2 separate regions of the Homo sapiens genome follow, and region 2 is linked to region 1. A link means that fine-mapping ties the variant in region 1 to the expression of a gene that starts in the linked region. Tissue or cell type: left ventricle. Region 1 holds a variant in brackets; the other region holds the start of a gene. All regions are shown on one strand. Distances are between the middles of the regions.

The links.
Region 2: it holds the start of LINC02286, and the variant in region 1 is fine-mapped to the expression of LINC02286 in left ventricle (GTEx, PIP above 0.99).

The regions. Positions count from the first base shown.
Region 1 is chr14:25,108,919-25,113,326 of GRCh38, reverse strand. No RefSeq gene overlaps it. Among named protein-coding and RNA genes, the nearest start is that of LINC02286, 45 kb to the left of the region's middle. The variant T/C (reference allele first, on the strand shown) is at 1,784.
Region 2 is chr14:25,154,417-25,158,824 of GRCh38, reverse strand. It overlaps LINC02286 (long intergenic non-protein coding RNA 2286), which reads left to right and starts at 2,562. Exons shown (of 5, transcript NR_184204.1): 1 at 2,562-2,637; 2 at 2,997-3,057.

The DNA of each region.
Region 1 (4,408 bases):
TGAGATCAAGTTAAAACCTTATAGAAACTAATCAAAGCTTTCACCTTTTTATATTTGTACCTGGCTCTGTTATTATTAGAGTTATATATAAGTGCTTTTCTGAAACATATGCAAATATGATTGCCCGAATGGCAGAGGCATAATGTCAAGCATTCTGCTTTCATTAACAAATCTATCAGAACTTGCCCCTTAGCTTTATCACTAAGACCGTTAGTGTCTTTAAGTATTAAATAATCATAATAATAAAGAAGGAAAATGTTGTATATAATTTGCAGAGGTGCTATCTGTATTCATTAGGATATTATTTCAGCTGTTTAAACAGAGACCAAATCACAATAGCTGAAAACTAGATAAAAGGTTATTTCTCTCATTAAAGTTCAATCGATAGGTTCAGCAGGTACACACTGTACTCCACAAGATCACCCAGGGATCAAAGCTCCTTCTATCTTGTTTTGTCATTTCTTACAGTGTTGTTCTTGTCATGGTCTAAACCAGCTTACCCCACTGCCACATTTATCCATCAGCCTATGGGAAAAGGGAAAAAGGATGTGGAAGGTAAGCAGCTTCCTTTTGGGAACATGATCTAGAATTTTGGACGTTATTTCTGCTCACATGCCATTGGCCAGAACTTGATTGTGTGGCCACACCTTGCTAAGAGAAACTGTGAAATGTAATTTCTAATTGAACAGTCATGTGTCCACTTAGACCTCAGGTGGTTCTGTTACCAAACTTCACCGTGCCACATATACAACTTCTATCCTACTTAAAAATATATATTTTAATAATCATTTCCCCATGCTGTTAATAAATCTTCATGAACATCATCTTTAATGACTATGTAATGGTTGTACCTATGAAAGTATTTCCCTGCTGTCAAACATGTAGGTAGTTTCCAGTTGGGGATTTTATACATAGTACTGCAGTTAATATCTGCCATATGAATCTTTATTTGCTTTTCTGGTTATTTCCTTGGTATTTATTCCTACAGGTAAGACTGTTTACTGAAAAGTTATACCAATTAACCTTCTCCTCAGAAGCAAATGAGGGGGCTACATTTTACACCACCATCACTTGCAATAATTTGGTCTTATTTTTTATCTTTGCAAATTTGAACAATTTAAAATTATATCTAATTATAATTTTAAATTTCATTCCTTTAATTATTAGTGCATTTATTACTCATGAATTTTAACATGTTTCTGGTATTTATTAATTATTTGTATTATTTCTCTTAAGAATTCATCTTTGCCCATTTATTATCTTAGCTTTTTTCCAACTGTAGAACAAGATAGTAATAGTACCTGCATAATAGGGTATGGTGAGAATCAAACAAGAAAAGGAATGACAGAAACTTTGTTTCTTCTGGTTTCTTCTGAACAAGTTCTTCAGACTTGGGCTCAGTCTATGTTGTAGCTACAATGGAGTGGTCTGAAGAGCCCTCATCACTCTGCCGCACAACCCCATCTTATTTTCTTCATCGTACTGATGATGATCAAAGATTCTATTTTTCAATGGTTTACTTATTTTTGTCCCTCCCCTTCCCCACTAGAACCAGGCCCTGGTCTCTCTTCTCTACTCATATTTCTTTATCACCAAAACAGCATCTGCCACACAGTAGATGCTCAATTAATATTTTCTAGATAAATAAATAAACCTCCTTCCCTCACTGCCAGAATCTCTTGACCTTGTTAAAAACTTAGGCATAGTCTTCAATTACCTCTTTGACAAAGACAAGATGTGATGCCCCCAACAAACCCTCCCACATTCATGCATACTCACTGAC[T/C]CATGCTTCTAGGCTCTTCTTGCCTCAGCCCCCATCTGTCACGCTTACAATCCCAATTCAAAGTGCCACCATCAGTTGCTCTCTAACATTCCACTGAACTGCATCACACATCTGGCATGGTTTCTACTAAAACATACAAGTTTCTAATTAGGAGTAGTCTCTAATGTAGTCTCTAATCAAGAATGAAAAGAGAAGGCAAAAAAGAGGAGAAGAACTCTGATCTGGCTGACTATAAAATGTTATCCTCATGCAGAAAGGAATGTGGCTGCCTGACTTTCTGGTTGGAATCTGAGAGCTAGCAACAGGCTGTGTTGGTAACAGAGAGCTTTTTCATATCCTCTGCCAGATGATGTGTACTTTTCCACACCACAGGGTGGAACAAATGGAATCCATGACTGTGCTTCTCAATCCAACACCACTGATGTGGCAGGATTTGGAAATTCTCAAGTCCAGCACGTAGTCTTTCCTGCTTATCAGAGCTTATCCTGCTTATCAGAGCTGCTGCAATTAAAAAATATATACTTGTACATTTTGAGATGGATTTTCATGGGGTGTTAGGAGAGAACAGATGTGGTCCCTCTATCTAGAATAAAAGTCTAGTTAATGTCAAATTTTAAATTTGCTTTATTTAGCATGCAGTAAGAGGTATCGTACATTTTTTTCTTCAATGACTTGTCCTGTTTTACTTTTGTTGCTTCAGAATTAATATGAATAGTTTCAAATGCATTTTAATATTTGAAAATTAATTCCACTTTAATTGGCAACTATTATGGTCTATAGGAATAAACGTTTTTGAGACCTAATAATTAAGGAATTAAATTTTAGAGTCTCTTTGACAAATTAAAAAGCAGGGAGAACATATTAATTGTTTTTGGAACTTAGGTCTGAATACTCCCTAATAAAAATGTGAGCTATCTTTCTGAAGTTCCCATGGAAGGCATACCTCCAGTTCTCTCAATTCCGAAGCCTCTCTCAAACTCTGCTTCTCTTCCTGCACATACTCAGTTCCTTTCTGAATTGAATGGAAGTCCTCTTTGGTAAACCTACTTCAAAAGTATGTTCTGACCACCCTTAACCCCAGATCTTCCCATCTTGAAACAAGGTAAAATACCCTCTTCTCTCATTGTTCTATTTAAAAGTGTCTATAAACTCATGAAAAGACTGCATGTTACTTTAGAGTCACACAAGACACATTTTTTACTGGAGATTCACTGGCAAGGGAATAAGTGGTTGGCCAGATAAATCTTTTCATGTGTCCCATTGTCTCACTATGTCCTAAATGTTCATTCAACGAGGCTGTCTATTGTGGCCAACATTCAGCATGCCTGCAACTAAAGCAGACTTTGTTGTTACTTCAGTCTTTTCCAGATACGGCCTGGGATTTACATCTGGGGAGCAAGGATATAGCAGCCCAAGAATAATTAGATGGGGCAAAATATTTACCCTGATGAATAAGGCACTGACATGGCAAGCAAACCAAAATATCCCCAGTCACAGATACAATGACAAACTCTCTCTCCAAGTCCTCCTGTCCTACTGTTGTTTGAGTGATTATACCTAATTCCATCTCAATTCCTCTCAATGTTCCTCACAAATTGATGACCTAATACTTCATGCCAGGATATTCTTGGTTATACTGGATTTCTAAGGCATTTTAATTATCATTATGCGTTCAGGGATACTGATTTCTACAATACAGAAAATGTTGAAACTTACAAGTCTGTGAAACCAGAACTTACAAAACCTATCTTGTTCTGAGTAGCATTGAAACTGTCAAGGGATAAATTGGTATTTAATAAAATTATCTTTTTATTATTACCATGGGAACTCTCCACAGTACACAAATACAGATGCTGACAAGGAATAAAATACCCAGCACCTCTGGCATATATTAATATAAAGGCAACGTAAAAAGACATACAAATATACAAAATTCTAAAATAACTACTCAGGACAATGTTTAAAAGTTTCCAAGGTTTTCAGTTTAGAAGACCAATTTTTTACAAAGTTCTAGTATGTCAACAAAAGTGGGTATCAGTAAGACCTAGCCCAGTAGCTAATGAATCTGGAAAATTCAATCTAAACAGGACTGTCTTTTTTCCATAGTAATTTAAAAGACATTACATATCAGATGTTCCAAGATTATTCTTCAGAAGAGTTCAGAGAAATGGCTTTGATAATGACAGCTTTGAATGTGGGCAGATCTTCATTTCTAAGAGGAAATCTGAAACTAGGTTGTGGCAGTGACAGTCACAGGATCCTACAAGCAAGGTCACTGTTAGGAAAGTCAGTAGCATGCCATCCTCTCAGCTGATAGGAATGGGGCCTTGGGCCTGAAATACTTCCTTACCAAGAGATAAAGAGTCCTCACGGCCTGTGCTGGACTTGTCGCCTTGGGTGGGAATATCTTTCCCTGTTTCAGACTCAATGTATGCTCCTTTGTTCTGCATAAGCATGTGTGTTATTTGGCACCTGGCCAACCCCATGATTATATCTGTTCCCTGTGGAAAGGGAGTGGCATTCTTCCAATATAGCACAAGAGGGGTGTGTGCAGGCCAATGACCCTGTGCCAGCTGCCAGGAGGGACCCCCTGGCCATGGAGGACCAATACCTACCACTGAAGCT
Region 2 (4,408 bases), 45 kb before region 1:
AGTTAACAAAAAAAGAGCCTAAATAACCAAAGAGATCCTAAGCAAAAAGAACAAAGCCAGAGGCATCACATTGTCCAAATTTAAACTATACTATAAGGCTACAGTAATCAAAACAGCATGTGCTGGTTAAAAAAACAAAAAAAAACAAAAAACAGCAGACACATAGACCAATAAAACAAACTAGAAAGCCCAGAAATAAAGTCACACACTCACAACCATCTGATCTTTCACAAAGATGCAGAAAGGACACCCTATTCCATAAATGGTGCAGAGATAGGTCATTAACCATATGCAGAAAAATGAAATTAGACACTTGTCTTTCACCAGATACAAAAATTAACTCAAGATGGATTAAAGATTTAAATGTAAGACCTCAAACTATAAGAATCCCAGAAAAAAAAAAAAAACCTAGGAAACACCCTTCTGAACATTGGCCTTGGGAAATAATTTATGACTAAGTCTTTGAAAGCAAAATTTAGTAAGTGGGACCTAATTAAACTAAAAAGCTTTTGAACAGCAAAAGAAACTATCAACAGGGTAAAAGAAAACCTACAGAATGAGAGAGGAACTTAAACAATTGAACAAGAAAAAGTCAAATAACCCCATTTTTAAAAATGGGCAAAGATATGCACAGACACTTCTCAAAAGAAGACATACATATTAGCCAACAAACATATGGAAAAATATTCAACATCACTAATCATCAGAGAAATGCAAATCAAAACCACAATGAGATACCATCTCACACTAGTCAGAATGGCTATTATTAAAAGGTCAAAAAATAACAGGTGCTGGTAAGGTTGCTGGGAAAAAGGGAACACTTAAACACTGCTGGTAGGAATGTAAATTTGTTCAGCCACAGTTTGAAGATTTCTCAAAGAATTTAAAGAAGAACTGCCATTTAACCCAGCAACCCAATTACTGGGTATATATTCAAAATAAAATAAGTCATTCTACCATAAAGTTACATACACTTGGATGTTCATTGCAGTACTATTCACAATAGCAAGGATATGAAATCAACCTAGGTATCCATCAGTGGTGGACTGGATAAAGAAAAGGTGGCACACGTACATCACAGAATACCATGCAGCCATAAAAAAGAGTGAAATCATGTCCTCTGCAGTGACATGAATGCAGCTGAAAGCCATTATCCTAAGTGAATTATCACAGGACTAGAAAACCAAATCCCACATGTTTTCACTTATAAGAAGGAGCTAAACATTGGGTATTCGTGGACATAAATATGGCAACAAAAGAAACTGGAGGCTGCTAAAGGGGAAGGAAGGAGGCAGAAAAGGGTTGAATAACTATTGGATGCTCACTATTTGATTGACGGAATCACTCACACCCCAAACCTCAGCATCACACAATATACCCAGGTAACAATCCTGCACATATACCCCTTGAATCTAAAATAAATATTGAAATTATTTTAAAGAGAGATTGAGGTTCAGTGGTAGGACAAAATAATAGAAAAATCAGTGGCTCAAGATCCACCTAGTAGGTAGAGCCAAGACTAATTATATTCTTATCACATGCTGGGAATGCACCATTACTTCCACTTGAACCTATTCTTTTCTGTCTTCCACTCTAACATGCAAACTTGGAGTAGGTCATTGAGTTCTATGAACCTTGGTAGTATCGCCTGTAAACTAACGTTATTGGACTAGATGATCTCTAAGCTCCCTATTCTAATGGCCCCTGCTTCTATAAATAAGAGGTGAGCAGGTTCTTTTAACAATTCTTGAAAAGTAACAAGTGAGAAAGCAATGCTCAGAGATCATCAAGTTGGGCTTGATCAACCCTAGCTAATGATTACCACACTTTAGTGTGCAGCAAAATCATCTGTAGTATGCTTAGGATTCAGGCTGCGTATGTGGGGAATATAGCAGAGTTATGTATATAATTACTTCAATCTCAGTGTTTTAAGTTCTCAACTGAGGAGCAAAAGGTCTCAGCCTTTTTATATAGGGCCTTCTCTCTCCAAATAGTTGAAAAAGTTCCAGAAGTACCCACATGTACCATTTAAATGGCCCCTAACCCTCATCAGGATTGGACCTCTTATAAAAATCACTTTTTCAGTCTCCAAGGGAGGGATTAGTAAGGGAAGAGTTCACCAAACACCACGAAAGCAACTCCTTACAGCTCAGGTCTGGGATCTTCCAGTGATGCTGGTCTCGGGCCTCTGTCCCCCTACAGGTGCTCATTTGGGATCATTGACTGTTAGCCCTGGGATGTGTGTGGCTTATCATTCTCTCCAGTTAATAGAGAACTGCTTTCCCTTTTCCTGTACAATTTTATAAGATTATCTCAGAGTAAAGCTGTTTTGAACCCAGACAACAGTGGGGTTTTTCTGTTTGTTTTTTCCCACCCCTCATGAGACTTATGCAGTTATGTTTATCTTCCTTGAGCACCTAGAGCTCATTGGTGGTGGAGGGTGTCTTACGGCATAGGTGGCCTCTCAGAGTCTCAGCAAGGTCACTCTTTTCCATATGTAATAATGAGCCATTGTTCTATTCATCATGACCTCATAGAGCCTTTTCTTTTTCTCAGGTCTCATTTACTTCCTCTTTTTTTTTTCCTTTTCCTTTTCCTATACCTTCCTTTGGTCCTTATAAGTATCCAAATTGCCCTGTAAGTATGAATTTTACAATAATGTCCTCAATTTGGTATATCAAGACTGATCTTAGTAGTTTCCTTGCACTAGGCACGTTCAGCTTAAAAACAAAAAGTGCAATCTATTTTCAATAGGAATAGATAATGTTGTCCAAAAGCCTGAGGATAACAGTTAAACTCATTGAAAATCACTAAAAAGCCCTTTAAAGGCTACTATTTTCTTTAATGACATTTTTTCTTAGTGTTGGATGCCCCCTACCACCAGACAATTGGTAATAGGATTGCAACTGGTATAGGGAAGGTGGAGGGACTGAGGAGAAAAGAGAAATTGAATTTATGTGTCTCCTTCTTAGCACAGCCTCAAATTTCTTTTTCAGAAAATAACTTCTGCACATGCAGCATTAGGAAGCAGTGTTTCCCAACCACTACATTTGAATGGTGAGTACCCAACCCAGAGGTCTCAGGAACCTACTAGATTCCCAACTCTGTCATGATTTTGCACCAAAGGGCACTTAACTTATTTGTGGATGTAAAATGAAGAGAAAGATGCCTGCCCATCAGAAGCCAGCACCATGCTCCAGGCATAGGGCTTCAAAAAAACAGAGAAGATTCAAAAATGAGGATTGTCATCTCAGAGAAGTTTATGAAATTATTAAAATTTGCAAAACAATTTTAATCCTATCCAGGGGTCAGGAGCTGCTCATCTTCCATCTGAGGGACTGGGCCAGGGACAGTTTTATCGAATGTGAATCTAGGCATTGCACCTCCATACATGACCATCAATGTTTACAGTTTTCTTTTCTGCATTTACTCTGGTTTCACCTTTCATATGGGACTCCTCTGATCTTCAATTCTCTCCCAACTCATGTCTTACCAGGCTGGCTCTAACATCTGATAACTGACATCATCTGGCCCTATAACTTCTCTCTCTCATGAATAGGCAGTCAAGGTCTGGCATATCCTGACTTCTGTAATCAATTGTTGTGATGAAAAAATTCATTTAAACAAACATAGAAGTGTCAGAAACATTTTTAGGAAGGCAGAACTGACCCTGGAAACAGAATAGGAAATGATGACAACATGCCAACTCGAAAATAATGTAAGTTATTCTACAAATAAAACCTAGTCAACATGAACAAATGACTCAGCTGTTTCTCCCAACAATAGCTGTAGAAAAAAATTTTTAAATGTTGAAAATATAAATATTTGGGTAATTACCCACTGCCATTACTCCACACAGTGTCTGGATTTTCAGCTTTACCTTCTCGTCAGATGAAAGATTCTTGAACTGGTATGTGAGTTCCGCATCTTCTTTTTAGAACTATTTAGACAATGCTCAACTTACAAAGAAATTGCCACTACTCCTGTGTGAAAAAAGGGCACACAGGAGAAGTAGTGGCAATTTCTTTATAAGTTTAGAGGAACTCTGCTAGTTGAGAGGAACTGCTCAAGTTTCTCTCAACTAGCAGACTTTCCTGGACTGCCTGAATCCCTGTCTGCCGTAAGAAGAGAATTTCAAAATGAACTGGTGCTCTTGGAGAGTTCCTGGGTTCAGAAGCGAGGAAAGGGAAGAAGTTTCAAGACCTATGTGTATCAATTACTAATTTTTTTTGCAATTAAATCAAAAACTCTGGTAACAAAAAACATTTGTTTCCTTAGCAAGAAATTCAACAGGAGGACTGAGAGAAAGGCCCCAATTTAGCAACCGGGAACCCAGAATCAAATAGGTTCAGCGGACTACAGTAGAATGGTCAGGGTAGAGACCATGTTGCAATGGGTTGTCTAAGAA